4 separate regions of the Homo sapiens genome follow, and all the other regions are linked to region 4. The links come from fine-mapping of genetic effects on gene expression. A gene starts in region 4. Each other region holds a variant in brackets. All regions are shown on one strand. Distances are between the middles of the regions.

Evidence for each region. PIP is the estimated chance that this variant, and not a neighbour inherited with it, causes the effect.
Region 1: its variant is fine-mapped to the expression of PFKFB3 in testis (GTEx, PIP above 0.99).
Region 2: its variant is fine-mapped to the expression of PFKFB3 in amygdala (GTEx, PIP above 0.99).
Region 3: its variant is fine-mapped to the expression of PFKFB3 in CD4 T cells (BLUEPRINT, PIP 0.95). The same link has a PIP of 0.9 or more in monocytes.

What each region holds. Positions count from the first base shown.
Region 1 is chr10:6,127,764-6,135,864 of GRCh38, forward strand. The region is part of intron 1 of LOC101928080 (a long non-coding RNA gene); the gene reads right to left. Among named protein-coding and RNA genes, the nearest start is that of MIR3155A, 20 kb to the right of the region's middle. RefSeq lists enhancers at 2,165-2,214, 2,265-2,344, 2,355-2,434, 6,371-6,919, 6,920-7,467. The variant A/G (reference allele first, on the strand shown) is at 4,630.
Region 2 is chr10:6,269,032-6,277,132 of GRCh38, forward strand. It overlaps a transcript of PFKFB3 not described here. Among named protein-coding and RNA genes, the nearest start is that of LINC02649, 53 kb to the right of the region's middle. RefSeq lists silencers at 1,301-1,501, 2,941-3,141 and enhancers at 1,631-1,680, 5,964-6,073, 6,224-6,663. The variant G/A (reference allele first, on the strand shown) is at 4,809.
Region 3 is chr10:6,343,648-6,351,728 of GRCh38, forward strand. It overlaps LINC02656 (long intergenic non-protein coding RNA 2656), which reads left to right and starts at 6,669. Exons shown (of 1, transcript NR_148966.1): 1 at 6,669-8,081. RefSeq lists a cis regulatory region at 4,363-4,863. The variant G/C (reference allele first, on the strand shown) is at 4,583.
Region 4 is chr10:6,199,219-6,207,319 of GRCh38, forward strand. It overlaps PFKFB3 (6-phosphofructo-2-kinase/fructose-2,6-biphosphatase 3), which reads left to right and starts at 3,714. Exons shown (of 15, transcript NM_004566.4): 1 at 3,714-4,118. The coding sequence starts at 4,043. PFKFB3-AS1 (PFKFB3 antisense RNA 1) reads right to left here and starts at 3,539. Exons shown (of 2, transcript XR_007062045.1): 1 at 3,222-3,539. RefSeq lists enhancers at 1,350-1,867, 1,868-2,384, 2,939-3,443, 5,183-5,685, silencers at 2,187-2,406, 3,437-3,766, 3,817-3,926, 4,047-4,556, 4,787-4,866 and a cis regulatory region at 3,377-3,908.

The DNA.
Region 1 (8,101 bases), 71 kb before region 4:
AGAAGGCCTTTGCTATGGCTGCTTGAGCATGGGACCAAACAGAATAGACCAGGAATTTACAGCTAGATGTGTAAGGTAATTACATTGTCCAAGAAACCAAAGGGTGCAGTGGTTCACTCCTGTAATCCCAGCACCTTGGGAGACCAAGGTGGGAGAATCACTTGAGCCCAGGAGTTTGAAACCAGCCTGGGCAACACGGTGAGAGCCCATCTCTAAAAAAAATAAAATTAACTGGGTGCAGTGGCACATGCCTGCTGTGGTCCCGGCTATGCAGGAGGCTGAGGTGGGAGGATCACCTGAGCCCCAGAGGTCGAGGCTGTAGTGAGCTATGATTGCACTGCTGCACGCCAGCCTGGCCAACAGAGTGAAACCCTATCTCAAAAACAGCAACAAAGAACAAAGCAGCCCTCAGGCTGGCTAGCAGTAGCCCCTGTCTGTTCAGGCCGTGAAGCCATCTGCAGCCCCTGAACCCATACTCAAGAACTGAACTGCAAAACCCTATGTTCTCCATCAGGGGTGTCCCGCCCAGGGCCCTGCTTGGATGAGGTCTTGGAGGACCCTCCCAGAGACCAGAGAAGTCAGTGGGAAGGTCTGATACGAGGTGCCAGGCTGGCTCACTGGGGAGCTTGCTGTATCGCCAGGGCAGGGAGACCTCACTGCTCCTTCCAGCGGGATCTTGCGTGTGACTCGTTTTGTCTTCCCATCCTCTGAGTTTCTGAAGGGGGATTGTATTGCAATGGTCTGTTTCCTCTTCCACCATTCCTTACTGCATGTGTTGATGATGGACTACAAGTCTTTGGGCTATAGCTGGTGGGATCATGAGGAGCTCCCTCTGGACCCCAGGCGGACGCCTGCACCTCATCTGGATATGCAGGACTCGGGAAGGTGGATGCCATGGCTCAGGTGGTCTTGAGGGTGGCCCTCCAAGCCTTTGGCGGGGGCAGTGTGTTCTCTAGAAAGAGGTGCACTGGGGCTGACCTGGGAAAAGACCAACCCGATTCACATTCCCAAACCCTTTCTTGTATTTAACTTTTCAGAAACGTTCCATCTGCTCTCTCTCAGCACCACTTTGCAGCTAATCAAGAAGACGCAAGCAGACATCCACTGGGGGTGGGGAGGAGTTCCGAGAGTGCTGAGCCTTCCGGATTAAAGGGACATACGCTGCTGCCCGAATCCCAAATGCAGCGTGATGCCACTACCGCAGCCCAGCTGCAGCCTTGAGGAAGAGGGTGCAGGAGCTACAGAGGCTGTCCTTGACATGATTCAGCCTTCAAAGCAGGATTAACTGCTGCTGCCTCCAGACCTTCCTGTTTTGTGAGAAAAACAAATCCCAATGTGTTTAAGCCTCCATGAGTCAGGTTCTCATTTACATGTAGCCGAAAGCATTTCTGAAGGGTGCAAACACACTCGAAAGATAAGATTCTACCCCATCAGCAAAAACCATTAGGTGAAGTTGATGAACATTTTTCAGTCAACACTGGTTTCATGTTAACAGCTTAGTGATCTTCCCAGGGGGTGAGATTTGGGGTGCACTGAGGAGGCCTCCCTACCTAAAATAATTCCAGCAGTCCTGTTATTGATGCCTGAACTTCTACATGCAGAGCCACACGCAATCTGCGTGGTATGCACACACATGCACACACAGCTGTTAGGAGGGGCCTGAACAACCAGGAGTGTAGACGGCAGCGCAGGAGCTTGGGACAGAAAGCCAGGCTGTGGTTTCATGCATTGCAGATCCTATATCCCAGAAGCCATTTCTTTTTCTTTTTCTTTTTCTCTTTCTTGTTTTGTTTTGTTTTTTGAGACAGAGTCTTGTTCTGTCACCCAGGCTGGAGTGTAATGGCGCGATCTCGGCTCACTGCAACCTTCACCTCCCTGGTTCAAGTGACTCTCCAGCCTCAGCCTCCCGAGTAGCTGGGATTACAGGTGTGTGCCACCATACCTGGCTAATTTTTGTATTTTTAGGAGAGACAGTATTTCGCCATGTTGGCCAGGCTGGTCTCGAACTCCTGACCTCAGACGATCTGCCCGCCTCGGCCCCCCAAAGTGCTGGAACTATAGGCGTGCGCCACCACGCCTGGCCAGCCAAATCTATTTGTAACAGATTTCACTTTCAGAAAATTTCTCCATGTAATCCAAATCTTTCATTTTCTAGTACAGACCTCTTTCCCCTTAGCACTCTGTTCTTGATGACTTAGAAGTGTCGTTTCTCTTCACATCATTTGCACGTCATTCCTTCCTGTCTCCAGCTTCTTCTTCCCAGCCCTCCTCCTCCTCTGCACACAGGAAACCTCATTCTGTGGTGTGAACAGGGGGATTCCCGTCTTCCTGAAGCGACTTAGTCTTGAGCTGCCTGTGCCCTTCCCATCACAGTGAATGTTGCCAGTTGGGGATGACTGGGCAGCCATGGGGAAGGTGAGCAGAGGGCAGAGGAGTCCAAGCCCCTGAGGTGGAGGTGGGAGCAGGGAGAGCTGCAGGCTCAGCTGCTGGGGCAGTAGGAGGAGAGCCAGGACCTGGAGGAGTGTGTGTGTGTGTGTGTGTGTGTGTGTGTGTGTGTGTCTGTGTGATTGTGAGTGTGTGTGTGTGGTGCGGTCAGTGGGGAGCGGGGGAGTCTTTTATCTTTACCACTTGTTTGTCTGATTAACCTACTTTTCTTGGTTTCTAGGGAAAGAGCAAAAAAATTTTTTCTTTCTCTGAGACAGGGAGTAAAGCACGTGGCATCAAGACTGCAGCAGAAGGCCAGGCGCAGTGGCTCACACCTGTAAACCCAGCACTTTGGGAGGCTGAGGGTGGGGGTGGATCACCTGAGGTCAGGAGTTCGAGACCAGCCTGGCCAACATGGGGAAACCTCATCTCTACTAAAAATACCAAATTAGCCAGGTGTGGTGGCACGTGCCTGTAATCCCAGCTACTCGGGAGGCTGAGGCAGAAGAATCACTTGAACCTGGGAGGCGGAGGTTGCAGTGAGCCGAGATCATGCCACTGCACTCCGGCCTGAGCAACGAGTGAAACTCCATCTCAAAAAAAAAAAAAAAAAGAAAGAAAGAAAGAAAAAGAAAAAAAAAAAGACTGCAACAGAAGCGCAGGGCACCCTGGGATGCCTGCAGCCTCTCACCTTCAACCTCTGTGCTGGGATCCATCAATTCCCTTCCCATTTGACTGTCAAATCAGAAGGGTCTTTGCTAATTTCAGCATAAATTGGGAGAAAGCTGACCTCGATTTAGCTGGAATGACAGCAATGACTAATTTGTACACCAGAATTAATAAAGCTAGCTCTTGCCCCACAGGGAGAGAAAGATGATGTGGTTTTCTTGCATCTGCCCTAACTGAGATTGCTTTTTGGCAAGGATAGAGAAATGCTCATTCTCCACACTCCCAGGAGGGGGTCTGCTGACAGCTCCTGGACTGTCACCTGAATTGAGGTGTGACTGGGCCAGGGGTGTCCCAAGCCAACCAGCCAGGCACCTGGACGGGTGGGCTCTTGACCCCCTGAGACCACCATGGTCTTCGAAGGAGAGTCAGCAGGTCTGGAAGCAAGCGTGCTGGGGACCCCTTCCCCGTGGGGGGCCAGGAGCTCCTGTTATAAGAGCTCCAACAGGCCTCCGTATTTTCTGTCCCTTTTACAGGCAAGAATTCAATTCTGGGTCCTGAGCAGGGGTTGTCCCGGTCAATAAGCAACTTCAGTTCCTTGGGACAGGACCCCAGACTTGCTGGTAATGACATCGTTGTTTCTTTACCGGATAAGTCTCTCTTAACCCTGGAAAAGTCTGTTTACACAGAGGAGTGTGAAACCAACTCATACTTTTGATATTTTGGGGTTACGTTTAGGCAATCTTTACATATTTGATATTTTAAGAAGTTGCTGTTTTAAGAGGATGTGGCATATTTTAACTTGTAATTTTAAATGCAATGAATGGACTGGCCTCTTGATTCCAATTCAAAATATGTGATTGGGTAATTGATATAGATTTGTGATTTAAACTCAGATATTCAACGCCAATTTATTAAGATTGTAGGCAGTATGGGAACATTTAAAAAAACCAGAGATTCGCCAGAGTTAGTTGTTAAGCACTTGAGAATGCTTGTGAATAAATTAAAGTATTTAAAAGTATAAAGTATTAATATTATAAATGCAGTTTAAAAATTTTAAGGCAGCAAGTGCGTTGGCTCATGCCTCTAATCCTAGCACTTTGGGAGGCTGAGGCGGGCGGATTGCCTGAGCTCAGGAGTTTGAGACCAGCCCGGGCAACCTGGTGAACCCCTGTCTTCACTAAAATAAAAAAATTAGCCAGGCATGGCGGTGTGCGCCTGCCCATAGTCTCAGCTACTCAGAAGGCTGAGACAGGAAAATCGCTTGGACCCAGGAGTGGAGGTTGCAGTGAGCAGAGATCACGCCACTGCATTCCAGCCTGGGTGACAGAGCAAGACTCTGTCTCCAAAAGAAAAAATTTCAAGGACATTTAAATAAATAAATTTCTGAATGGGAACAGTCATCAAAGTTTTCCTTAACAATGACTGTTCGATGTTTTCTGTATTATAAAATAAAGTTATACATGGATGGAGCTGGAGGCCATTATCCTAAGCGAACCAACACAGGAACAGAAAACCAGATACCGCATGTTCTTGCTT[A/G]TCAGTGGGAGCTAAACACTGAGGACACAAGGACACAAAGGAGGGAACAACAGATACCGGGGCCTCCTTGAGGGTGGAGGGTGGGAGGAGGGTGAGGACCAAAAAGCTATCTGTCAGCCGGGCGCGGCGGCTCACACCTGCAATCCCAGCACTTTGGGAGGCTAAGGAGGGCAGACCGCTTGAGTTCAGGAGTTTGAGACCAGCCTGGGCAACATGGCGAAACCCCATCTCTACAAAAACTTAACATTAGCCAGATGTGATGCTGCATGCCCTTGGTCCCAGCTATTAGGGAGGCTGAGGTGGGAGGATTGCCTGAGGTAGAGGCTGCAGTGAGCCATGATCATGCCACTGCACTCCAGCCTGGGTGACCGAGCAAGACCCTGCCTCAAATTTAAAAAAAATAATAAAAAAGAAGGCTACCTGTTGGGTACTATGCTTATAATTTAGGTAACAAAATAATCTGTACGCCAAACCCCTGTGACATACAATTTACCCATATAACAGATCTGTACATGTATCCCTGAACCTAAAATAAAAGTTAAAAATAAATAAATGTAGGACTGCAAAAGGCTTATTGCAAAAAAAGTTAAAGTTAAGAATAAATAAATAGGCTGGGTGCAGGCCGGGCGTGGTGGTTCACGCCTATAATCCCAGCACTTTGGGAGGCTGAGGCAGGCAGATCACCTGAGGTCAGGAGTTTGAGACCAGCCTAGCCAACATGGTGAAACCCCGTCTCTACTAAAAATACAAACATTAGCCGGGTGTGGTGGCACATGCCTGTAATCCCAGCTACTCGGGAGGCAGAGGCAGGAGAATCGCTTGAACCTGGTGGAGGTTGCAGTGAGCCAAGATTGCGCCAATTCACTCCAGCCTGAGCTGGAGAAAAATCTATTTTGTTAAGCAGGAGAATCCTATTTTGTTAAGCAGGAGAATCGCTTAAACCTGGGAGGCGGAGGTTGCAGTGAGCTGAGATTGTGCCACTGCTCTCCAGCCTGGGTGACAGAGCGAGACTGTCTCAAAAAAAAAAAAAAAAGGGCATTTGCTCCTCACATTTGGCCACTGATGAACACTGTCTGCATGTTACAGGTGAGGAAACAGGTGGAGGAAGGGAGTGCCCGGAGCAGAGGCCCCGCCCCGCCCCCACGGCCTGGCTCTCCCGCCTGGTTTAGTTTGGCCTCTAAAGCGTCCTCATTACAAGCAAAGTGCAGCCCCACCACAGAGAATCCCGTTTCTCTCTGGGAGTGCTTATGTGATTAATTTGAAGTCACCATGACTCTGATTTCCTCTGCAGAATTCAGCAGCGTATTCCAGGATTCCAGGAGCGCAATGCAGTAGAAAGCAACCACTTGGCCCAGGAGACTGAGACTAATTTCTGGGAAAGAGGCAGCCAGGCTCCTCGGCCTTATGCAGGTCATGAAGACTCAGTACATTGAAATTGAAGGTCCTCAGTTCCCAGCTAAGCGAGCCTCCAAGGACTGTGACGTCCCAACCTTCGGATGAGGATGGAGGCGGGAGGAGACACAGCGCCGGCCAGGAGACCTGGTGTTGGGGCTCTGCCCCTGGTCTGGCTGAGCAATCCGGGCAAGTCACTACCCTGGCCGAGGCCAGCTTTGTCGGCAGAGAAATGGGTGAATGCTGCCTCCGCTTGAATCCAGAGTTTGTCAGGATGCTATGGAAAAAATTATATGAAGGTTCTTTGCAACATTAAAAAAAATAATAAAATAAAATAAACCTGTTGCATATTTGCCAGGGGCTGGGCTTTCTGAGAGTGGACAGGGAACAGCTGAGCGTGCTTGACGGCTCTGGGGTCCTCAGGGCCTCCGTCTCCCCTGTGACACTGTCCTGGGCTCAGCGGGCTGTGGAGGCCCCAAGTGACGCTGTGAACAGCTGGCAAGAGCCTTTCCCGGACTCTACAGCCTCCCTGTGGCCCCTCGTTCCTTATGAAGGAAGGGATGGCTGCCCGACCTGTGGGTCCTGGGCACTGTCCTGCTCCCCTGGTTGTGGAGTTGCCAGGACGGCGGGACAATCAACACAACGCTCTTCTTCTTCTGTCGGGGACATCACCACAGAGAAGAAAAGAGCCTCTCCCTAGAGAGAAATCCTGATGTCTGAAACTTCAGCTGAATGGAGGAGAAAGGATAATTCATCACCTTTCCCCAGAGCCAGGGCAGCACGTAGGAGCTGCGTTTTGAGGGGAGGATGACAGAAAGAGTGCACACAGCACACCAGCTGTGCTAGGGCTGGGCCAGGCCAACCGTGGGCCCTTGGGGAGCCCATGCCCCCCACCAGCAGCCTGCTGCCAGGTTCCTGGGCCCGTGTGTGCGCCTCCTCCCAGGTGTTCAGCTCGGCTCTGACCTAGGAGCTGCCAGGAAGGGCTGTGCAGATGGAATTAAGGTCCCCATGAGTTGACTGTAAGATGGGAGATTGCTGGGGGCCGGAGTCCTTTAAGGCAGAGAGCTTTCTCCTGCAGGACCCAGAAGAAGACATCAGTGTTCAAAGCACGAGAAAGATCCAACCTGCCCTTGCCCCTGCGGAAGGAGGAGCCACGTGGCATGGAACGAGGGTGGCCTCTAGGAGTGACCCCGCTGACAGCCAGCGAGGAAATGGGGACCCTATTCCCACTCCACAGGAACTGAATTGTGCCCACAAGGAGGAGCTGGGAAGTGGAGTTTTCTCCAGAGGTTCCTGATGAGAACTCAGCTAGTCAGCACCTTGATCTCCGCTGGGCGAGGTCTGTGCAGAGCCACAGGCAGGCAGTGTGACTTCTAACCTTCAGAATCGGGAGCTAATGAAGGGGTGGGGCTTAAACCACAAAATTTCTGTGTGTGTGTGTGTGTGTTTTTTTGTTTTTTTAAAAAAAGAACACTACATAGCAATAGAAAGTAAACGAACATCCCCTGCATTAAATTGCACATGTATTGAAGTTCAGTAGATGTAAATTAGCACAGCTGTCTCTTCTTTCCTGAAAGCATTTTTTTTGTTTTGTTTTGTTTTAGAAACACAGTCTCACTCTGTTGCGCAGGCTGGAGTGCAGTGGTGCGATCTCAGCTCACGGCAACCTCCACCTCCCTGGTTCAAATGATTCTCCTGCCTCAGCCTCCTGAGTAGCTGGGACTACAGGCGTGTACCACCATGCCCGGCTAATTTTTGTATTTTTAGTAGAGATGGGGTTCCACCGTGTTAGCCAGGATGGTCTCGATCTCCTGACCTCTGGTGATCTGCCTGCCTTGGCCTCCCAAAGTGCTGGGATTACAGACATGAGCCACCATGCCGGCCCTGAAAGCATTTATTTTGAAACAATTTCAAACTGAAAAACACCTCTATCCTCTTCTCCCACACTGACCAATTGTTCCTCACCAGTTGTCTATGTATTTGCTAAATCATTCTGTGTGTGTGTATCATGTGCGAGTGCGTATTTTTTTTCTGAGCCATCTGAGCCCATTTACCCCTACAAAGAAAGAAATTCATTTAT
Region 2 (8,101 bases), 70 kb after region 4:
AAAAAAAAAAAAAAGTTAAAGATTTTTAAAAATTCATTTTTTAATTATTTACTGCTAGTATGTAGAAATGACAATTGCTTTTTAAAACAGTAGTTGTCAACATGGGCTCCCCTCCCTGGGTCTTCATCTTCCCTGAATGGCGATTCTTCAGTATATTTTTACTTCCCTATATGCCCAAGCAGATTATTTTTACGTTTTTTTTTTTTCAGCTGTTAGATAAAGATACTGAGATACCAAGAACATAAATAACTTTTCCTAAACAAATTTAAGACTGAATTATAGACTCAGTGATCTAGGATGATTTATGTACTTATTTATTTTCAGAGATGGTTGCCCAGGCTGGTCTTGAACTCCTGGGCCCAATAAATCCTCTTGTCTCAGCTTCCTGAGCAGCTGGGACTACAGGTATGCACCACTGCACCTGGATAGGATGATTTGGTCTTGTCTTAAGGAGCAACACATACATATATTTTTTTCCCTTTTCCAGATTCCGGGGTCTGTTATCTGTGTGATGAGGCCATGGGGAAAATGCAGTGAATATAGGCTTTGCCATAGGTAAGACGTTGCAGTTAGGAAAGTGGAAGTGACTTAGGGTGGAGAAATGGGAAGAGAAATTGGTTTAGTGTGTGGAGAGAGGAGGCAGTAAGACTTAACTCTTCCCAGGGGTAGACATTAAATGGCTCATATTTCTGGTCACTGACTGAGTTATTTTGTACCTGGACAACTTCAGAAGTCAGCATGTCAGAATGCATAAATGAAGAGGGCCATATGATGTGACTCTATCTGACACAGTTTTATCTATTTATTTTGAAAATGGTGCCAGGTGTGGTGGCTCACGCTTGTAATCGCAGCACTTTGGGAGGCTGAGGCAGGTGGCTCACCTGAGATCAGGAGTTTGAGACCAGCCTGGCCAACATGGTGAGACCCCCCTCTCTACTAAAAATACAAAAATTAGCTGGGTGTGGTGGTGTGCACGTGTAGTCCCAGCCACTTGGGAGGCTGAGGCAGGAGAATTGCTTGAACCCGGGAGGCGGAGGTTGCAGTGAGCCGAGATCGCGCCATTGTACTCCAGCCTGGGCAACAAGAGCAAAAACTCCGTCTCAAAAACAAACAAACAAAACAAAACAACAACAACGACAACAACAAAAGAATATGGGTGTTTAAGACTCAGGAACATGGGACAAGAATTCTGTGCTCTACTTTCTGGTGAGCTACGACCCGGAACCAGTTGCTTTCCCTCTCCACAAATCTCTCACGGAGATAATGATGCCTTCTTTTTCCCATTTCATATGAGAAGTATAAGTTACCTAATATTACTCATTCTTCTACCAAGAAACTAGAGGAATATTTTTGAGGTAACTGATTGTGTCATGCAAGGTTTAAAAGCCCTTCAATGGTTTCCTGTTGCTCTTGCGTTTAATGACACACGTCCTAACCACAGCTCACCGTGTCCTGGGGCATCTGGTTCTTGCCTGTCTCTCTAGCCTCAGCTCAGCCTACACTCCTCGGCCACAGAGGCTTTCTTGAACTCTTGTTTTTGCACACTCCCTCCCATGTAACACCTTTGTGCTTGCTGTTTCCTCTGGATAGTAAGGGTCCGGTTCCCTCTTTACCAGGTGGTTTCTAATGCATCAGATGGTGTCATGGCATCAAGGAGTCTTCCCACCCTCCGGGCTAGATTAGGCCCTATGACATGCGCTCATCGGACCACATGCCTCCTTTGTAGGACACCCAGAGTTGCAGTTTCACCTTTATTGGTGTCATTATTTGCTTCATGCCCGTTCTCTCACTAGACTTAAGCACCTTGAGAGTAGGAACTGGGCCAGTTTTGACTCAGCACTCTCTTCCCAAGATCTAGCCCCCTGCCTGGGATAGTAAGCACCCACTAAATATTTGCCAAATAAATGAAGGAAAGACATTTTTATTCATTTCATCCTAACTGTAGATTTTCCCAGTTCTTAAACTTGTTTTCTGAAACGTGGGTTTGGATAAGAAGCATTCAGGAACAGATTATTGAAATTGGGAAAGAAAGTGAAAGATGCTCTTCCAATGGCCTTGCTACAAGTAATTAGTATTCAACCACTTCCCCCGTCTGGAACCTAGTTTCAAGTGCCAAGAGAAAATGTGTCTAGCATTTAAATGGATTCTTCCAGAACACCAGTGGCCATGCAATTGCTGAAGTAGCCAAGCTCCTGTGCATTGTAAATGTCAGCCTTGTTCCAACACCTCTGCTAAGGTAAGGACGAGAACCGAAGAGCGTTACCTTTCAATTTATGATTTCCTGGTGCGTGTGTGATGCCTGGGAGGCCCAGGCTACGTTCCTTTAGCCACTGAAGGACTCTGACAGCTGCCTCCTGGGGGTGTGGGAGCCAAGAGGCGGGAAGTCAAACTTCAGATGTGTCTATTGAATGGCAGGATGAAGAGCCTGGTAGCAGTGCTTGCGGAAGGGCTGGGAAGCCGAATTCTTTGAGAGTAATGAAGCCACTTCCGGGCAGGTAGCACAGGGAGCTGATGAAGCCCAGTGTTTGAATCAGACCTCTTTTAGCTCCAGTCCTGGTTCAGTACTCTCTAGGTGTGTGATCTTGGACAAGATGTTCAAGCCCCAAGCCTATGAGTCTCTAACTAAGGTTGTGTAGAATAAATGAGACAGTGTACCTCAGACCTTTGATAAAAAGTGAATGTTCAATAAAGGTAACAGGATACTGTGACCCCAAATAGCCACAGCGCCTTCTCCCGTGGGTGGAGGGTGGAGCCTATGGGTATCTGTGTGTGCTTTCTCCCCCACACTGTGGGCATGTATTTATATTTTTAAAGCTAAATTGAAATGAATCCTAGTTCAACCTTGAATGGGAAGAAGTATTGCAAAAGGGCAATAGGCTATCAGAGGGTGGGTGTGGAAGTGGGAGAGGCAGGTACCTATTTACTTAGGGAATATTTACCAATCTCTACCATGTGTGGGAATCTGTGCTTAGCACTGAGGATAGACCAGAGGGTGGGATAGACAGTTGCCCCTGCCCCGATGGTGGCTGCCATCCAGCAGGGAGGGCAGATGTGAAGCATTACATACGTGCTTACTTGCCATTGTGCATGTATGTTGTATGTTATGAACAAGTGCAAAGCACCCCGAGTTCACAGACAGGGGCTGTAACTGTCTAGTTTGGTGAATGGCTGATGAAGGCAGTGCTGGGAGATGATAAATGTCCCTTCTGTCCCTTAGGACTTGCAGGTAATGGTCTCCTGTGTCCCTCCCTTGACTCCAGGCTGTCTAGTGAAGGTGATCGTTCCAATTGCCCTATTAGGACATCGGGGTTTCTTAACTAAACCCTGAATGATGCCTTGGATTTATGCATTCTGGCCAACGTGTTGAAATACGTCAGTCTGGCTGGGCACGGTGGCTCATGCCTGTAATCCTAGCACTTTGGGAGGCCGAGGCGGGCGGATCACCTGAGGTCAGGAGTTTGAGACCAGCCTGGCCAACATGGTGAACCCCGTCTCTACTAAAAATACAAAAATTTTAGCTGGGCATGGTGGTGGGTGCCTGTAATCCCAGCTACTTGGGAGGCTGAGGCAGGAGAATTGTTTGAACCCGGGAGGCAGAGGTTCCAGTGAGCCCAGATCGTGCCATTGAACTCCAGCCTGGGTGACAGAGGGAGACTCTGTCTCAAAAAAAAGAAAAAAGAAATAGGTCGACCTGGGCCCCAGCCGCGCTGTGCTTTCATGAGTTTCCGTCAGCCCTGTTCCATATCCTGGATCTGTGCATGCCAAGGGCTATGTGGGAAGATTTCATTTCAGGTCTCTTGAGAACAGGGTCAGATGGAGGAGGCAGGCTTTATTTCAGATTTGGACAATAGGCCTGAGGGCTTGATTTATAGAGAAAGTCTCAGAGGAAAATAAAGGAAAAGAAAATACTTCCCATTCTCCTAAAGTGTTCACATGTCTCCTGTGCAGTGAGTGGGGCTGAGATTGCAGGCTTTTTTTTTTTTTTTTTTTTTTGAAGTGGAGCCTCACTCTGTTGCCCAGGCTGGAGTGCAGTGGCATGATTTCAGCTCACGACAACCTCTGCCTCCCGGGTTCAAGCAATTCTCCTGTCTCAGCCTCCCAAGTAGCTGGGATTACAGGTGTCTGCCACCACGTGCGGCTAATTTTTTTGTATTTTCAGTAGAGACGGGGTTTGCTGGGCCCACCTCACAGATGTGATCCATATTCTCATGATGGCCGTGAAATTAGAGATGTGACTAGAAGCAGCTGCCCACCAAAAGTAAAACAAACAAAAATGAGGCCTGGAGTTTTCCCCGTTCCTCTTCTGGGGCCCGAGGAGCTTGCCACCCGTGGGTGAAAAGCGTTGCCTTCCCGAGAACGCCTGCTCTTTAAGGGATCCCCGCCGCCATGCAACCTACAATCGCACGGCCCTTTACAGTGTATAAAGCCCTTCAAACCTTGAGGGGGCTGTCGGGAAACCTGTGTTCTGTTGACAGTTCTGTCAGTCACTCTGGGCTTGAGGGTTCTCTAAGGAAAGCATGGAGATTGGACTGGAGTATGTTAAGGACTGAATTGCATCCCTGCCAAAAACAGCACGTTGGAGTCCTACTCGCCAGCACCTCAGGGTGTGACCTTATTTGGAGAAAAGTCTTTCCAGAGGCCATCAAGTTAAAATGAGGTCATTAGGATGGGCCTTAATCCAGTATGGCTGATGTCCTTATAAAAAAGGGAAATTTGGAGACAGGCACATGCAGAGAGAAGGTGATGAGAAGAGGGAGTGAAGACAGCTGACTACAGGTCAAGGACAGACACCTGGATAGCTCCTTCCC[G/A]CAGCCTCAAAGGACCCAGTCCTGCCGACACCTTGATCTTGGACTCCCACCTTCCAGAATCAGGAGAAAATAAATTTTTGTTGTGGGCCGGTGCGACAGCTCATTCCCATAATCTCAGCACTTTGGGAAGCTGAGGCAGGAGGATCACTTGAGCCCAGGAGACTGAGACCAGCCTGGGCAGCATGGGGAGACCTGTCTCTACAAAAAATAAAATAGCTGAGCCTGGTGGCACTTACCTGTGGTCCCAGTTAGTTGGAAGGCTGAAGGGGAAGACCGCTTGAGCCCAGGAGGTCAAGGCTGCAGTGGGCTATGATTGCAGCACTGTACTCCAGCCTAGGTGACAGAGCGAGATCCTATCTCTAAAAAAAAAAAAAATTAAAAAACTGTTGTGTAAGTCCCTCCATCTGAAGTACTTTGTTGCGACATCCTCAGCACACTAATACAGTGTACTGAAGCTTTTTTGTGTGTGCTGTAGCCCCTCTGGTCCTCCAGGGTTGATCCTGAGCCCCTTCTTAGAATAATGTTTACATTTAAAAAATAACACACTTTGGATTACGAAGGAGAGAACTCTTGAAATACTGATATCAAAATGCCAAATATAAACATTTACGATGTAGAAATATATGTACCACTTTAATAATGCATTCAATAGTGGCAAGTCTGAAAACAACCGTAATTTCACAGTAGAGATGAAGGGTAAATACTCTTTCAAGACATCTGCAACAGGCTGGGTGTGGTGGCTCATGCCTGTAACCCCAGCACTTTGGGAGGCTGATGTAGGAGAATTGCTTAAGCCCGGAAGTTTGAGACTAGCCAGGGCAACATAGTGAGACCCCATCTAAAAAGAATTAGCTGGGTGTGGTGGCACACGCCTATAGTCCGAGCAACTTGGAGGCTGAGGTGGGAGGATCCCTCGAGCCCGGGTGGTCGAGGTTGCAGTGAGCTGTGATGGTACCACTGCACTCCAGGTTGGGTGACAGAGCCAGACTCTGTCTCAAAAAAAAAACAAAAAACAAAACTGCAATAACCATCATGTGCCATGAACATATTATGATTTTTACTGGTGACCGACACAGAGGCTGCTCATGTGGTATGCTGCCTATCTTCATAATGAAAATGCTAAATATTAGTTCCTGGCTAGTGGAGGAAAAGATTTTTTTTCCCACCCAAGTTTACATATTCTTGAATTTGATCTGTTCCTGGACTGGGTGGTGTCCACTAGGGGACTTTTGGGGTCTGTGGTTAGGCGACTCTGGGTGGATTGTCCCATGAGGCTGATGCCTCTTGCTCTTTGCTTAAGACTCAGTGACCCTTCGGCACTTGGGGGCCTTGTGCCAGGGGCAGGTGGTCACGGCCCCGCCCCTCTGTTGTCATGGCGACAAACCGATGTGGCCTCTGGAAGCTGCTCCCTTCTCTGTCCTCTTCCAGAGCCTTGCCGTGGCTCCGGTAGATTTCTCTGCATAGCTTGTCTGTGACTCGGCGAAGGAGGTGTGTGGAGAAGGTGCCAGTTCCCTCAGCGGAGCCACCCTCGGGGCCTGCGCCTGACTCAGACAGGAAGTAGCTGACACTCCATGCCAGGAAGTAGCTGACACTGCATGCCGGGAACGCTGTCCCCAGCCTTGTGATGGAGTCAGGCCTCTGCCGGTGACTCACCGCCATCACCCAGGCGCTGCTCTTGCTGGGAATTTTCTCATGAGCTCATCTGGGCAGTGCAAAGAACCACACAATTGTTCCCCACACGCGTTCTTATTGTGCAAAAGGGAAACCTTGGTTTGGATCTTGTGGGTTTTTTTCTTTTTTTGAGATGGAGTCACGTTCTGTCACCCAGGCTGGAGTGTAGTGGTGCGATCTTGGCTCACTGCAACCTCCGCTTCCCGGGATTCTCCTGCCTCAGCCTCCTGAGTAGCTGGGATTACAGGCATGGGCCACCACGCCCGGCTAATTTTTGTATTTTTCATAGAGAGGATTACATCATCAAGAATGAAACATTTTTTTTTTAATGGCTTAAGGGGTATATGGCTCTTCAAATACACGCAGGGGTTATGCTTTCTCCATGTGGAGGGTGGTGCTCCCTCTGCAGCCCACCCATTCGGAGACAGGCTTTCTTCATGCTGGAGTATCTCATTCCTCGAAATATGCTTGCTATTTCATGCTTGAAATCAAGATGTCTCCCAATTCATGGCACCTTGTATTTGACAAATAGACTGCGTAAAGACAGAGTCTGTCTTTAGGGAATGAGAGGATTTTTGGTAAAAACAGAACCAAAACTTCTACTGACCCAAGAGAAGGCTTTGTTTGCTTGGAGTGGATTATCAGCCAAATGCTATCTTTATTTTGTGGGATTTTGGCCTTTGAATCAGGTTCATGGGTGGCATGCTATAGAAATAGGATAACAAATGGGATAATTCTTCAAACAGAAACATGGCCTAGAATGGGAGGGGTTGTTGTTTATTTATATGTATGTGTCATAAAAATATTTTAGATCATAACTTAGCAAATGTATGAAAGTGGAAAATGTGTTTATGGATCTATTTCATAAAAGGGCCATGCTTCAGAAAAAAAAAAAATCCCAAGAAACAAACCAAAAAATGCCAAAAAGAGAAATCTCTGTATGGGAGACTATCATTTAGCTGCAGACAGGATAGTTACAGATTAATTGCTGGCCTTATCTAACTACTAGCTACAATAACTCCAATTTGGGGTCGGCCAAGTACCAATGAACTTCGCTTTCTCTGGGCAACAGCTGAGATGTTGCAGCTGCAAGTGGGGTTAAATAGCCTCCAATAAAGGAAAAAACTTGAGGAGTAATTCAATTAAAAAAAAATTGACATAATTATAGATTCAAGGATGATGCAAACAAAAAGTGTGCAGGAAGGTCCTTGTCCCCTTCCCTCAGTTTCTCCCAATGTGACATCTTACATAGCTACAGTACAATATCACAACCATGATATTGAGATTGGGTCACAGAACCTACCTAGATTTCCCATTTTATATGTATTTGTGTGTGTGTGTGTGTGTGTGTGTGTGTAGTTGTAGGCAGGTTTATCACATGTGTGGATTCTTATAACCATCACCCAAATCAAGATATATCTTGATTTTGCTCCATCACCAGGAGGCTCCCTCATGCTACCCCTCTAGAGCCTCAAGTCACCTTCCCTCCTTTCTCCTCCCCACCTGCTGGCAACCACTAACCTGTTCCCCATTGCTGTAATTTTGTCATTTCAGAATGTTGCATAAATGGAATCATATTGTATGTGATACAGTTTGGATCTGTGTCCCCGCCCAGATCTCAT
Region 3 (8,081 bases), 140 kb after region 4:
TACAATGTGATTCGGGGACTCTGCAGAGAGCACTCTGCAGCAAAGTATGACATGGGATCTTTTTCAGCTATGGACTTGCCAGCAGTCTTCTGCAGCCATGTCTTCTGGGCCAGCCTTGTAGGGAATTGCCCCTCCCTATTCCTGCCCAGCCTGGTTCCATCTGGTTGCTGTCAGGCTCCCAGCTGCTGGGTGGAGAACTGCAGTGGCAGAGTTTGCTCATCTGGATGCTTAATAAGCAGGCACCCTCCCTATGCCAAAGCAAAGCCTGCAAGAGAGGACTCTGATGGGTTGTGGGCAAGAGCAGCATTGGCTTTGCGATCCCCAATCTCATCGTGACCTCCTGGGTAGGGGAAAGGGAGCCCCTGGCAGAGGCTGTGGCCTCCTCTTCACTGGCAAGATGTGGACTTTTCCTCCTAGTTATGAAAGGGCCATGGGGCATGTCACACATTGAGGGAGGTCTAAGAAAAGGAAACTGCCACCCATGTTTGACTGTGATGACACTGGTAGAAATGCCATCCCGGAAGCAAGGATAGAGACCGCCTTCTCCCTCCCCTTGCGTTTGTTTCCATGTGCTTGTTCCCATTGGGAGTGGGAGGATGAGTTTAGAGAGTATTGAGATGATGCCTTTATTTAGGTGAAGCAGAGCTTGGCCAAGTCTAAAGTCAAGCTCTATAGATGGAGCCTCGCTAGAGGGCTGCCTCTGAGGAGCTAGGATTGCTTATAAGAACCAGGGAGGAGGAAAGACAGTGGAAAGGGGTAGGCAGGGATGCAGGCTGCCCATGGAGCAAGGTGGAGAACCTGTCACAGGGTACCCGGCCTTTTACAAGGGCTTTTCGGGGAAGGAGCTGTATCAGAGGCTGTTACTTGCCTCCTCAATATCCATTCTTCCCTACTGTTGCTATCACAGGAAGGTGAACACGTGCCCAGCTAAAAGCCTATATTTCAGTGTCCCTTGCTGGAATTGTGGCCAAGGAGATGTAAGTGGAAGTCACTGGATGGGATTCTGGGAAGGCTTTGTGAAGGTGGCTGACCCAGCTGGAAAAAGTGACCTTTTGTACTTCTGTCTTCTCCTTTTTTGTATCTGCAAAGAAGTGGAATGACTGGAGCTCCAGCAGCCATCTTGTGCCTATGAGGTGAGTTCTGGAGAACAAAATCCCACAGCCGAAGGTGGTGGAGCAGAATGATATAGGGTACCTGGTTCCTGCTGACAATGTGGAGCCCTCCTATGCTCCCTGGTCATCTCTCCTCAGACCATGCCATGTGAAAGAAAGTCATCCCATAATGTGATTAAGCCATGCTTACTTTGGGTCTCTGCTTATAGCAGACAAAAGCCATTTCTAGATAATTCAGGAGACTAGGCAATACAGACTAGCCTGCTTGCAAGACAAGCTTTCTTAGTCAAGCCTAGGTCTTCACATAGGACTCTTATTCAAGGAATTAGACTGAGAAAAAAGGCAAAGAGGAATCTACATGAAAGAGTGTATTGTGGTGAAAGTTAAACAGTCAAAAATAAACAGTAGTGTCGTTAACAAAATGCCCTTCTCAGTGTGCTCAAACACTTCAGAGTCCTGTTTTCTCAGAATCAGGGGATTGAAAATGACCTTAAATATCATTTAATTTGTTTAGCCCCACTCCCCTTTTTTCTTTTCTCTTTTCCCCTTTTCTCACCCACAGAAAGTCAGTGTCCTTCTGTTTGTGCCTGCTGGCCTTTTGCTGCCAATATCTGAGCAAAGTTGCTCCATATGACCCTGTGATATTGGCAGATCACAAGATTTGTCTCAAGTCATTCAGTATCAGATCCCAGAAGTAGCAACTCTTCTTTTGCTGATGCCTATCCATCTATTTGTCTATCTCTCCATCCATCTATCTACTTATCCATCCATCTGTCCATCCATCCATCCATCCATCCATCCATTTTCATCCATCCATCCATCCATCCATCCATCCATACATCTATCTACTTATCCATCCATCTGTTCATCCATCCATTAATCCATCCATCCATCCATCCATCCATCCATCCATGCATCCATCCATCCATCCATCCATCCATCCATCCATCCATCCACCCATCCATCCATGCATCCTTCCATCCATTTGTTCATCCACCCATCCATCCATCTATCTTCTCTCTCTCTCTCAATCGTCTGTTTATTGGTTGTTTCAAGCACTGCGGCTACACAATTTAAATACATAATCTTCACAACAACCCTATGAGCCTTGTTATCTCCACTCCACAAATTAAGAAATGAGGCTAAAGATAATAAAGTAATTTGCCTAAGGTCAAAGAGCTAAATGCAGGATAAGGTTGGAAGTGTCTATGTGGTTCCAAAGAACCCAACACACTGAACCACTTTGCTAGGCTGGCTTGTCATGGGTTATCCTTCCACATGACAAACAAATAGAGAATTCATTCCAGCCAACACACGCTGATTGCACAAACATAAAAACAGATCTTATAGAAATATATATTTGATGGGCTTCCAGGTAAAGACTTTTGTACAGCCTATCATGATTTACTCTGGCCTCAAAAACTTGCTTTAAAAGCCCAGAAAAAAAAAGTGTGATGTTAAAAGTCTTTGGGTCAGTTGGGTAAGAGGACATCACCAGAGTGGCAAATCCCAATGAAATGGAAGCTCCATGGCCAATAGAAATGGACCCTTGTTAGATTGTGGCTTATTGTAGCAATTCAAATATATTCACCTTTCAAATCATGTCTTTTCCAGGTATTATGACCACACAGGGGAAAGCCAGGTTAGCCCCCATCTTAGAGGATGGTCCTTTTCTGGATCACCAGGTTATAAATTTGTCCTACGACATAGGTTAGCGTGTACTCTTGGCCCTTCAAAGGATGTGGTATTTTGGTGTTGACCTTCAAGACGTTCCATAGTATGTAGTCGTTTTAATTTTGCAGAGGTACAAGTTCAAGGGATATCTGAGATGAGATATTTAGCTAGTGAGGAGGCAAGGGGGTTAGCGAACCCCGTAAAGCTCTTCAGGTGATGAAACGTTGTTAAAAGTATAGAGAGCAATTTGGTAAGAGACAAAAACTTAATGAAATTTGAAAAGACCATTATCTTGTGGGATGGGGATATTTATAGGAAGGGTGACTCAGGGGGCAGGGACTGCTGGGAAAAGCCAGGAACCTGTAGAATCATTAGGATCCAGTCATTTGGAGCTTCCTCCAGGTCTGGGAAGACATTCTTTCCCAGTTCCCAAGGGCCATTGCACTCTGATTTGGAAACAAATAATTTAGGATGAGTATAAAAATGATAAAACTTGCTCATCAAAGTGACATTTTAGACATAGCTAAATATTACCACATACCATATTATACTGTCATAGTTTCCCACCATTTTTTGTTCCTTGGAATAAGGCAACTTATAAATACTCTACATTATGGTTTTTTTTGTTTATTTGTTTGTCTTGTTTTGAGACAGGGTCTCGCTGTCACCCAGGCTGGAATGCAGTAGTGCAATCATGGCTCACTGCAGCCTTGACCTCCTGGGCCCAAGTGATCCTCCCACCTCAGCCTTCCAAGTAGCTGGGACTACAGGCATGCAACACCATGCCCAGCTAATTTTTAAAATTTTGTTGTAGAGACAGGATATTGCTATACTGCCCAGTCTTGTTTCCAACTCCTGGCCTCAAGTGATCCTCCCCCGTCAGCCTCCCAAGGCATAAGTTACTGGTGTGAGCCGCTGCGCTGGCCTATATTATATGTTTTTGCTGCTTCTGTTGGGGAAGAATTTGGTGTTTTATCTGAGAGAGATGACAGGAACCTTGGCCAGATGCCACCCCCAGAAACTCAGTGTCCTTCTGTTGGTAGCTGCTTGCCTCTTTGCTGCCCCTATCAGAGCAGAGTTGTTCATTTGCTTCTCTGAGCACATCTTGTGTGGAGTCTCGGGCCCCAGACAGCAGGGCTGCAAATGACACACTCAGCTGCAAGGCAGCAGTGATCTGTGGACGAGATTCAAATCCAGAGAAAAAAACGGAAGCCTCGAACTGCATCTGAAAACCAGCGAGAAAGAAGCAAATTCCTGTGAAATGGCACAGGCATCATTTCAGCGTTGACTCATTCTGCTCAAACCTGTCACCGCTCACACGGGAGTGGTCGTTGGAATAAGGGACTTCTCCTCAGGTGAATGACAAAGAAACACAGATTTGGATTTGCCCAGGTGTCTGGAGAGGAGGCTGCCCCTGGATGCCGTGCCCCACTGTGCAGAAAGGGGATGCCCGGGGCATTGTCACCGCAGCGAGTCTGCACCTACCATCCTCTGGCCCCTTTCTGCCACCTCTGCAGCATCTCCAATTAAATTTTAAAAAAGTAAAAGTGGGGACAAGAATCATCTGCCTGCCTGTGTTTGGCCCTCCTTCCAAGTTTTTGTGTTCTGTTTGAAATCAAACTTATGCTTTCTTCCAAAATGAATGACAGAGAAAAAAGAAAAAGCCACCCAGGCTTGAAAAGTGGTAGCTTCTTGCCGCCGACTTCCTGCCGGTGCCAAGTCAGAGGGAGCTCTGCGTGTCCTCAGTTCACCCTCGCCAGGCCACACCGCATGCAAATAAGAAGCTGTTTCAGTGT[G/C]TGCCCATCTGAGACGCTGACATAAAAAAGGAAGAAAGAAAGGAAAAAAACCACCGTCACCACCAACAAAAAAACCCAAAACTGATTAATTCTCGTAGATTGCAGCAGAGCAGGGGGCCTGGTGGTGACACATCCTGTTTTGCTGTTCAAGTTGTCATCCCCCAAGCCAATAAGCTCCCTCATGAACGGCACCAGTTATGAAGGGTGACAAAGAATTCAAAACACTCACAGGACAATTTTCCTAACCCTTGGTCTCTCGGAATGCTATTTTTTAGGCTAATTTGTTTTGATGAGAAAACTATGCCTGCTAGGCCTATTTTTAAGCCAGATTTGAAGTCAACGCAGTTGGTATTTGATCTTGCAAGAACGACAGAGGTGTCAGCAGCAGCTCTGCCATTTAAGAGCTGTAGCCTGGTGGGACACCGTCCTGCAACCAGGGCCCTAGCACAAGAAGTATCTCTGTTGTTATTTGCTTCTCTTCTTTGAGATCCATACTTGATTTGAAAAATCACCACTTGAGCGGCACCTGGTGATTACGTAACCATTCAACTCTGTGTTTTATCCTAGGGCTAGGTAAGAAATTGAAAATCCAGCCTGAAATAATTAGTTTAGCTGCAGACAGGGTGTATTAAACAGACTCAATTTAATAGAGCTAGAACCATAAGATGAATGTATTTATCTTCAATCAAAGATGACATGTTGGACAGATTCCTTCATTCATCACTTTTCTGTTATGTTTAGCCCTAAGGGAAGTCTTTTTTAGATACGTAAGATGCACCTTCAGGGTTAAAGCATCTAGTCCAGTCTGAATAAAACATCAAAAGCACCTACAATCCCAAGCTCCTTCAAGAACTTTGCAGGCAGTCTTCGGGTGAGTTTGGTAAGACTATTAATCGGAGTAATGAAATAAAGTATTATCACATCTATTTATTTTTCTCATTTTCTTTTAACTTCTCTTTTGTGTATGTTCTAAAATACACATAATTTTCAGTTCATAGGGCATTTTCCCCTTGTAAGTAAATATGAATATATTTCAGAGTGAGCTCAAAGTTTTACGTTAGATTTAGGTAGGCATTTTTTTTTTTTTTTTTTAAGATGGAGTTTCACTCTGTCACCCAGGCTGGAGTGCGGTGGCTCGATCTTGGCTCACTGCAACCTCCGCCTCCTGGGTTCAAGCGATTCTCCTGCCTCAGCCTCCTGAGTAGCTGGGATTACGGGCACCCACCACCACACCCGGCTTATTTTTGAATTTTTAGTAGAGCTAGGGTTTCACCATGTTGGCCAGGCTGGTCTAGAGCCCCTGACCTCAGGTGATCCACCCACCTCGGCTTCCCAAAGTGCTGGGATTACAGGCGTGAGCCGACAAGGTAGGCAAAAGTTAAAAACAAAAAAACAAAAAAACAAAAAAAAATTTGGAATAGTCTGTAACAGAGGAGGGCTTGAAGAGAAGTGAGGTGATTTGCAGAAGCATCAGCCAGGAGGCATTCCTCCAGGAGAAAAATTTTTACTTAAAGGAGAGAGCTTAGTGATGGAGAAGGAAAAGATCTCGACAGACATTCAAGATTAGAATCATAAGTTGGCCATTGATTGGGTGTGGCTCTGGGAAGTGGAGGTGCTGTGGGCAGGGGCTGGCTTGGGCAATGAGAAAATGGTGTTGCTTATGTGCCCACTCTGTGCTGGGACTCAGCTGTGAGTGCCTCCAAATTCACCACATTTATCAAACCTCAGTGCTCTGAGACAGCATATGATGGCCTAGCAGGATGTCCATTCTTTTCCTGGAACCACCCATCCAGTTATCTCCTTGAGTCGCCTGGGTGGTGAAAAGTGGTCTCATGCACAATGGATGCGGTGTGATCCCCTTGCTATGTCACGCATGGCGTCTGCCCTCTTCCCTGGCACCTGTGCCACTCCAGGTTATGCCTGTGCTGCTGCCCATTCTACGCCCACCTGGAAAGCCTGAAACCTTCTCGTGCCTTCTACTGCAGCTGGGGAGCTTCTTCCACGTCTCATAGCCAGCTTCTCCAGAGGGAACTCCCAGAGCTGACTGTACTTTCCTACCTCAGCCTCTTCTTCCTGGGATGGTGTCAAAATATGAACAGATACAGCTTCATGCTTTCAGGAAACCACCTTCTCTTCCATCTTCTCCTTTGGCCTGCTCAGACAGCCAGACTTCTTAAACATATTTTTCCTACAGGCTCATGCAAATTAAGGGATGTGGCTGAGCATCTCCTTCAGTGCCCTCAAACAGGTCATGAATGTTGCAAAGCCCAGAATCGTGCTAACCTGGTAGAAGGCTGGTTTAGCCAGAACACACAGAGAGGACCTTCTCATGATGGTGTGGCTGAATTCCACATGTCACTAACAGTATCTTGCCCTGACCCGACTCCAAGTACTGATCCCCAAGGAAGGCATAATAGAGAGCCCATCTTGGGGAGGGATGATGACTTCATGTGCAAACAAGTCAAATTCAGGATGTGTGTTGTGGGCAGAGATGGCAATGCCCAGTCATCTGTTAGGTATACAGGTCCGCTGTACAGGAGAAAAATCAGAACAGAATTTCTATTTGTAGTGTTTCTTTTAGAGACTAGGGAATTGAAACCACAGGTGAATAAGAATGTACAAGGAACCAGGCCTTCTTGAAGAAATAGCTGAACCAGATTGGTGTCAGGAGCTGTACAAGGGGATCCAAGAATGTCTTGTCATACAAGCCGGACAGCTATTAAAGACAACTGAGGTCATGGCAAAAGGGCCCAGGCTTCTACTGGCCAACAATGAGACAATTTGAGCATCCCAAAGAATAATGACTTTAGTGGACTGAAACACATCAACATGTATACATCCATGAATTCATAATACTCAAAACGGTAAAACCAAACTCATTTGTTACCTTTGGAGGAGTCTGTCACCTCTGATTATTCTGAAAACTGGTAAATAGAAGGGGAAAATTCAAGCATTTATTCTGCTTTTCTTGTATAAACTGTACCTCACAGTTACGGAAGAGCTGATAAGGGAAATGTCTTCTTTATTGAAAAATTCAGCTGATACATTTGGAAGGAATGAGAGAATTACAGTACCACCATTAGGTGACAATGAGGGTCTGGTTTTTTATTTTTCTTTTGCTGAGTGCTGGGAACATAGTGATAACAAAAAAAGCCATAGTGTTCTGGCCCTTCTGGAGTTTTGATTCTAGCACATTAACCAAATAATCCCAGAGCAAAAATAAAATGTCAACTATGGTAAGTGTAGAGAAGGGAAAATACACAGAACTTTTAACAGCTTAGATCCGAGGAAGCTGACCAGCCTGCAAAAAGGGACAGCTTCCCTAGGGAAGTGACTTTGCAGCTGTGATGATGGATGACTAAGAGTTAACCAAGGAATGGGAGGAGGGAGGAGGAGACAGAGAAGGCTTTCCAAGCAGAAGCCAGAGCATGTGCAAAGATCCTGTGGCAAGAAGGAGCCTGGTGCAGGGGAGGAACGAAGAGACATGCAAGCTGGCTGG
Region 4 (8,101 bases):
TCACTCTCTCTGGGGCAGCGGGTAGGTCCTAGCTTGGTTTGAACGTTTTAACCTGGCTATGGCTGGCACAGGATCACGGAAATGCGGTTGCTTGTGTTTGTTGTTACAGCAGCATTTGGAAGCACTGGTAGGAGTTAGATGACATTGGCTGGCACAGAAGTGTGGGAACAAAGGTGATCCTGGAGAAAAACCACTCCACTGTCCTCTCAAGGCTGGACCGAGCTCAGTGAATTCAGCTATGTGAGCACCTCACCAGGCACTTGCTTTTTTTTTTTTCTTTTTTTGTGACAGGGTCTCACTCTGTCACCCAGGCTGGAGTGCAATGGTGCAATCACAGCTCACTGCAACCTCTGCCTCCTGGGCTCAGGTGATCCTCCCACCTCAGTCTCCAAAATAACTGGGACCACAGGTGCGAGCCACCATGCCCAGCTATTTTTAAATTTTTTTTTTTTTTTTTTTTTTTTTGCAGAGATGGGGTTTCATGTTGCCCAGGCTGGTCTCTTAACTCCTGAGCTCAAGCAATCCGTCCGCCTGAGCCACCCAAAGTGCTGGGATTACAGGTGCGAACCACTGCACTGGCCAGGATCATTTTCAATAATTGCCCTGCTAATGTCTCATTCTACTCACGGAAGGTCCTTCTCTGACCTTTCCTTCCCAAACAGCTCAATTGTTCTAGGTGAGTCTGAATCACAGCCTGATCAGCGGCTAAATTAGGATTCCACTCAGCACCCTGGGGTTAGGGTGGCCCTATAATGAGTCTCCTAGGGAGCTAGCTATCTGCGTCCGTGTCAAGCAGAAGGGAAAAACAAAAACAAACCAACAAAACCAACAAAAACCCCAGCAAACTCTGCTCCTAATTGGCTTTCTTCTTTGATCTCTGACCTGGTTCCTTGACTACTCTAATCTCAACTCCCTTTACTTCTTCCCATAAAGCAAGTGGGGTTGACTAGGTAGTCTTGAAGTTTCCTTCTATCTTTCATAGTTTCTAGGACCACGACCTAGGAGAAATCATCAATCTGCGCTAGCCTTGGTGTTATTGTAGCTGTAAAAGAATCATCGTATTAGAGGAACATTTACGTTATTGGGAGCGTTTTCTGAAGGGCCGCCTTTGTGATACCCAGGTTAGTAGGAGGGAAGTTGGCCAAGCCCTAGTTGGACATTTGGGGTGAAGATGGGGCATTAGCAGAGCTAGGGAATGAGTTAGGAGGATGTCCAAACTAGTAAACTCGGAACCAGTAAATTACCAGAATACAGTTGCAGTTGGGTTGTTTATAAGTGATTTTGTAGTGAAGCAGTTTCATCTCTCATGAGGGCTCTACCCTAACTTACCTGGGGCTGTAAAGGCTGCCAGGAGTTCTAGCTGGCCATTAAAAAAACAAAAACAGGTGTGCATTCGTCCTTGCTCCCACGCACTCCCAGTTTGCACTTAGATGTAAGGAGCGGGGGGGGGGGGGGGGCGGGGGGTGGTGGTGGGGCGGGGATTGAGTTAACTTCCTTTTGCCTGCTGCAGAGCAAGTGCAGGAGGCGAATGGGGGAAGAACATAGTCTTCCCTCTAGACTCGGAACGCGTTATTGACAGACAGGAAAAGTGCCCGGTCTGCGAAAGTTCAGCTGGACCTCCGGGACATCAACTCCCTGTGCCCTAAGAGCTGACCGCTGTCAGATGCGTTATCTAGGTCAAGAGATGAATGATGTGCCGCTGCTGGGGCAGACGCCGTCTCTCTGCTCTCCCTGTGAGCTGAAACCAGCAGTGTTTGCAAGCTTGTAGGGAGTGTGGAAGAAGGCCCCCTGGTCCGCTTGCCTCGCCTGTACGTGTGCAAAATCGGTGGGCAAGCAGCGGGCGCGCAGGTGCACCGTCATTCCCCAGGAACCGCGGGCGCTCTTTGCAGGGGTGCAGCCGCTCTCCCCGCGCGCAGCCTACAGCCCTCCCCGACCCCCGCGAACCCCAGGGCGGGAACTCGTCCCGGTGGCGCGGGCGCTCGCTGCCTGCTGTTTCCCTCTTCGGGTCAGCCCACTCTTATTTCAGGAGTGGAGTGGGACTCTCCCCTGGGCGTTTAGGGTGTCGCCTCTGGCATGTGCTCCCACTGCAGAAAACAAGTCCAAATGCAACGCATCGGGTTTCTGAACAGCCGCCAGAGCGCGGAAACCAGACCGTCAGCAAAGCTGTCGCGGGAACAGGGGCTCTGAGAGGGCGGCGCGGGGGGCGGGGTGCCGGAGTGGGGGTCGAGGCGGGAGGGGGAGTGGGGGTCGAGGCGTGGGGGAGGGTGGCGGGGCACAGGCCAGGTGGCCGATGTTGCGCGTTCCGGGGCCCCTCGGCAGGCGGCGGGTCGGGAGGAGTGGAGGCCCGGGTGGGGCGGGCGCGCGGGGCGGGAGCAGCCCCGGTCGCCGCCTGGGCGCGGGCGCCCTCCCTGTGGAGCATGCGGGACGTGAGCGACGTGTGGCAGCCTCTGCGCAGACTTTTCCGCCGCGGTGTAGGTTTCAGCGAGCGCCGCCTTCCCTCCAATCACAGCCCAGCCTCAGCGCTAAGTGTGCACCTCTCTGCAAGGCGGCGCAGCGCTCCCGTACTGAGGCTTCGTTTGCAAAAGTTACATCCGTCCCGGCGCGGGCGGCGGTTCCCCACCAAAAGCAACCCAGATCTTCCCCGCACGCCTCTGACCTGACTGCACGACTGTCACAAGTCGCGAGCTGGTGCAAACTGCGAGGGCCGGGAAAGGAGACGGGGCACGCATGCACCAAAAAGTGGGGAGGCAGAGCTGCAGGGTGTGCAGGATAACGGAGTGAATTTTAGGAGTCTGCCTAATAAGGGGCCGCCCCCAATAGTTTTCCCTCGACTTAGGTAATGAATTGCAGATCGAAATGGGTCTAGTTTTATTCATTCTTCTACTCGGGGCGATAAAGGTTTATTGAATGGTGTACATGGTGAGTGTGAAAACCAGATGCCAGCTGCCCCCAGCCCCAGTCCACTTCAGTCCAGCTCCCCGGGGCTTTCCCGCCCCCTCCTCGTACCCAGCACCGCGGGCCTCTCAAGGTTCCCAGTCTTTGGGCTAGGGGAGGGGAGCAAGGCTCAGTTCAAGTCCAGGTTTCTAAGGGATTCAGCAAAGTGGACAAGGACGAGGTGAGGTGGGAGGATCAGGGAAGCCTCCTCCCCGCGGGTCGCCCGGGTCGTGGCGGGGGATGGGCTCACGGGTATTATCAGGGAGCAGCCTGGCCCATGTCCTTACCTGGACTGCGCCTGCCCCACAGCGCGTGTTAGGAATGCAGAGTATTGGGGCTCCATGGCCCTAAAGGAGCTGCATTGGTAGGATGCACTTTAAGCAGCTTCCCAAGGGATTCGGCTGCGGGGTCCACGGTCTACACTGGGCAGGACTGCGTCTCTGCTCTCCTCCCGGCCAGCACAGTTGAGGTGAGGGGCCGGAATTAGTCGGGGAAGCTGTGCCAGACGTCCCGAGGGGACAACGGGACGAGGGGATAACAGCAGCCAGGACCCTTCAGCAGGGCTGGGCGCGCTCCAGGCCCGGGGCAGGGCGGCGGGAGCTGGTGCACCGCCGTCGCCGGCCCGCAGGGGGAGCTCGCAGGCTGCTTCCCGGCTCGCCCACCCTCCTCCCCACGTGGAAGGGGGCTGGGACCCAAGGAATGCGGCCCGCCCCGAGGCTGACGTACGCGTCTGCGGCCAGCCCGGACTCTTTAAAAGCCGGCGGTGCGCGGGGCATCCCAGCCAAGCCGGAGAGGAGGCGAGCAGCAGGGCCTGGTGGCGAGAGCGCGGCTGTCACTGCGCCCGAGCATCCCAGAGCTTTCCGAGCGGACGAGCCGGCCGTGCCGGGCATCCCCAGCCTCGCTACCCTCGCAGCACACGTCGAGCCCCGCACAGGCGAGGGTCCGGAACTTAGCCCAAAGCACGTTTCCCCTGGCAGCGCAGGAAACGCCCGGCCGCGCGCCGGCGCACGCCCCCCTCTCCTCCTTTGTTCCGGGGGTCGGCGGCCGCTCTCCTGCCAGCGTCGGGATCTCGGCCCCGGGAGGCGGGCCGTCGGGCGCAGCCGCGAAGATGCCGTTGGAACTGACGCAGAGCCGAGTGCAGAAGATCTGGGTGCCCGTGGACCACAGGCCCTCGTTGCCCAGATGTGAGTGCAGCTGCGCGGAGCCGGGTTGCAGGGCGGGCTGCGCCGGGCCGGGCCATTGTGTGGGGCGGCTTTGTGCCGACGCCCCTCTGCGGGGGGCGCGCCCGTGCGGGTCGCGCCGGCGGGGCGGGGCGGAGGCGCGGGCTGCGCGTCCTTGGCCGGGCGGCGGGGGCGCTGTGGCCCTTGTCCCGGTGGCTGCCCCGCCGGCCCGGAAACGGCGAGTGCGCCCGGCCGGGCTGCGTACCCCGAGACGGAGGGACGCGCGCGCCTGGGCAGGCCAGGGAGGGGATCCACATCCTCCGCGATCCCTGTCCTCGACACCCGTCTCGGGCGGCCGTCGCCGGAGCGCAGCCCAGGGACCCGGCCGCTCGCGCCTCCGCCCCTTTTCACCGTCCGGATCTCCTCTCTCTGCATGTTTCCATCTCCTCTCCCGCCTTGCTATGCATTCCTATCCCCTCGCTTCACTTAATAACCTATTTCTCTGTCCTGTTTTCTCTTTCGATATATATGTCTCTGTTTTTCTCTGTTTCTACCTCCTTCCTCTCCCACTGTTTCTTTCTGCTTTTATCTCTTTCTCTCTCCTTCTCTCTCTTCCGTGCATCTCCAGTGCCATGGGGGCGCCCGTGCTGGGGGCGCCAGGAGAGCCACCTGGAGCCACGCCTGTGTCCCCGGCTTTGGGGAGGGTCGGTGGGTTGGTGAGTGCACGGTTGGCGCTGCTCCACGCGCCCCGGGCGCACGCACCCCCCGGTGCTCGGAATTGGCTGGCAGTACCCTGCCCCGCCCCGCCGGTCGCCGCCCCCGCCACCAGCGATCGCTTGGGAGAGGGTTACCTCGAGCTCCACCTCAGCTGCGGAGCGCCGCCGCGGAAAAGGGCGGGTGGGCAGCGCAGAGGGGCGACGCTGCCTCTCCAGGTAATGCGCCCCGGCTCCCATGGGCTGGACAGGGAGCCGCCTGGTGCGGTTTTGCCCAGGTCAGGTCGTAGCCTGAGTAGTGACCGTGGGATCCAGGTGCAAACTCTCGAGGTGGCTTCGGGTCATCCGAAGGCGCCTGAGCGCAGGCGGCTGGCAGGCAGGGTTGCCCGGCTACTACGTTTCTTAGGACGGCCCCCGCGGGACTTGGCAGCTCTCCTGGAGCCCTGCTCGGTCTGAATCACCGGCCTCGTCCAGACCTGCCCCTCTCCCCACACCCACCCCCATGGTGTGCCCTGGGTGGGGACGTCAGCAGATCCACCCTGGTGGACTTCAGGGTTCTGGGGTAGCCCTCAGGAGAGGTCTTGTTCCCCCTCTTTGTGAGGTAGCCCAGGACTGGGGGATGTGGGTGTGTTGCCCAGCCCAGTCAGATGCGCTTGAACTGGGGTGGCCCATGGTTCTCTTGTCTTTGTGTAAAACCTGTAAGTGGAGTGGAATGCAGCTCTTAAATCCCCAGGGAGGTTTGGCCAAGGCCAAATGCAGAAACAACTTTTGCATAAAGCAAGTATTATCTCTATAGCACTTTGTAAACTGCATTGGAGGCTAGTCCCACATATGTAAATACATGTGATTGTATACGAATGCCCACGGGTCTGAGAGGAGTGTCCCGTGACTTCCAGGGCTCTGAGATCTGTTGGCATCAGCTCAGTTGTGATCTTGAGAACTCCAGCGTGCACCAAGGCGTCCTCCCTCCAGGCTTGGATCCTGATCCATTAGACCCCATCAACCTGCACGTCTCACACGCAGTGAGAGATTTGCCTAAGAATCCCTGTCAGAATCATTCAGAGCTGGAGGGTGGGAATTTGGCTAAAGCCAATGGATTAATTCTTTTGTCCCGCCTACTGCTGGTATCCTCCTGTGTGGCTTTGAGGTATAGTCTCAGACACATTCCTTCTTGTAAAAAGATCCGCAGCCTGGGTATCGCACATCCTTATTTCAAGTGGTGGTGTCTTTCTCAGTTTATATAGTCACATTTAACTCTTACTGGAATGGAGGGAAGAAGGTGTTTCTATTTGGTATCTTTCCTGACACCCTCCCTCGATTCTCTAATGGCATTTGGGACATTGGGTGGGTTTTTCTTTCTTCCTTTTTTTTTTTTTTTTTTTTTTGACATGGCGTTTCACTCTGTCACCGAGGCTGGAGTGCAGTGGTGCGATCTCGGCTCACTGCAACTTCTGCCTCCGGGTTTCAAGCGATTCTCGTGCCTCAGTCTCCCGAGAAGCTGGGATTACAGGCGCACGCCGCCATGCCCAGCTAATTTTCATATTTTTAGTAAAGACGGGGTTTCACCATGTTGGCCAGGCTGGTCTTGAACTCCTGACCTCAAGTGATCCGCCCACCTCAGCCTCCCAAAGTGCTGGGATTATAGGCATGAGCCACCACGCCCAGCTGGGTGGGTTTTCTTTCTCCTAAACTTGTTGCCACCTTTATAAGTGGCCTTCTCATTGGAGGTCTGCAGCAGAGTTCCCTGAGGTTTATTATTTATTTATTTATTTATTTATTTATTCATTTTTGAGGTGGAGTCTCACACTGTCACCCAGGCTGGAGGGCAGTGGTGCGACCATAGCTCACTGTAACCACCAACTCTTGGGCTCAAGTGATGCTCCCGCCTCAGCCTGTCCAGTAGCCGGGACTATAAGTGTGCACCACCACACCCGGCTAATTAAAAAAAATTTTTTTTTTTTTTTAATTGATCATTCTTGGGTGTTTCTCGCAGAGGGGGATTTGGCAGGGTCATAGGACAATAGTGGAGGGAAGGTCAGCAGATAAACAAGTGAACAAAGGTCTCTGGTTTTCCTAGGCAGAGTGTTTGTGTCCCTGGGTACTTGAGATTAGGGAGTGGTGATGACTCTCAACGAGCATGCTGCCTTCAAGCATCTGTTCAACAAAGCACATCTTGCACCGCCCTTAATCCATCCAACCCTGAGTGGACACAGCACATGTTTCAGAGAGCACAGGGTTGGGGGTAAGGTCATAGATCAACAGGATCCCAAGGCATAAGAATTTTTCTTAGTACAGAACAAAATGAAAAGTCTCCCATGTCTACTTCTTTCTACACAGACACAGCAACCATCCGATTTCTCAATCTTTCCCCGCCCCTTTCCCCCCTTTCTATTCCACAAAACCGCCATTGTCGTCATGGCCCGTTCTCAATGAGCTGTTGGGTACACCTCCCAGACGGGGTGGTGGCCGGGCAGAGGGGCTCCTCACTTCCCAGTAGGGGCGGCCGGGCAGAGGCGCCCCTCACCTCCCGGACGGGGCGGCTGGCCGGGCAGGGGCTGACCCCCCCACCTCCCTCCCGGACGGGGTGGCTGCCGGGCGGAGACGCTCCTCACATCCCAGATGGGGCGGCGGGGCAGAGACGCTCCCCACATCTCAGACGATGGGCGGCCGGGCAGAGATGCTCCTCACTGCCTAGATGGGATGGCGGCCAGGAAGAGGCGCTCCTCACTTTCCAGACTGGGCAGCCAGGCAGAGGGGGTCCTCACATCCCAGACGATGGGCGGCCGGGCAGAGACGCTCCTCACTTCCCAGACGGGGTGGCGGCCGGGCAGAGACGCTCCTCACTTTCCAGACTGGGCAGCCAGGCAGAGGGGCTCCTCACATCCCAGACGATGGGCGGCCAGGCAGAGACACTCCTCACTTTCCAGACTGGGCAGCCAGGCAGAGGGGCTCCTCACATCCCAGACGATGGGTGGCCAGGCAGAGACGCTCCTCACTTCCCAGATGGGGTGGCGGCCGGGCAGAGGCTGCAATCTCGGCACTTTGGGAGGCCAAGGCAGGCGGCTGGGAGGTGGAAGTTGTAGCGAGCCGAGATCACGCCACTGCACCCCAGCCTGGGCACCATTGAGCACTGAGTGAACGAGACTCCGTCTGCAATCCCGGCACCTCGGGAGGCCGAGGCTGGCGGATCACTCGCGGTTAGGAGCTGGAGACCAGCCCGGCCAACACAGCGAAACCCCGTCTCCACCAAAAAAATACGAAAACCAGTCAGGCGTGGCGGCGCCTCCTGCAATC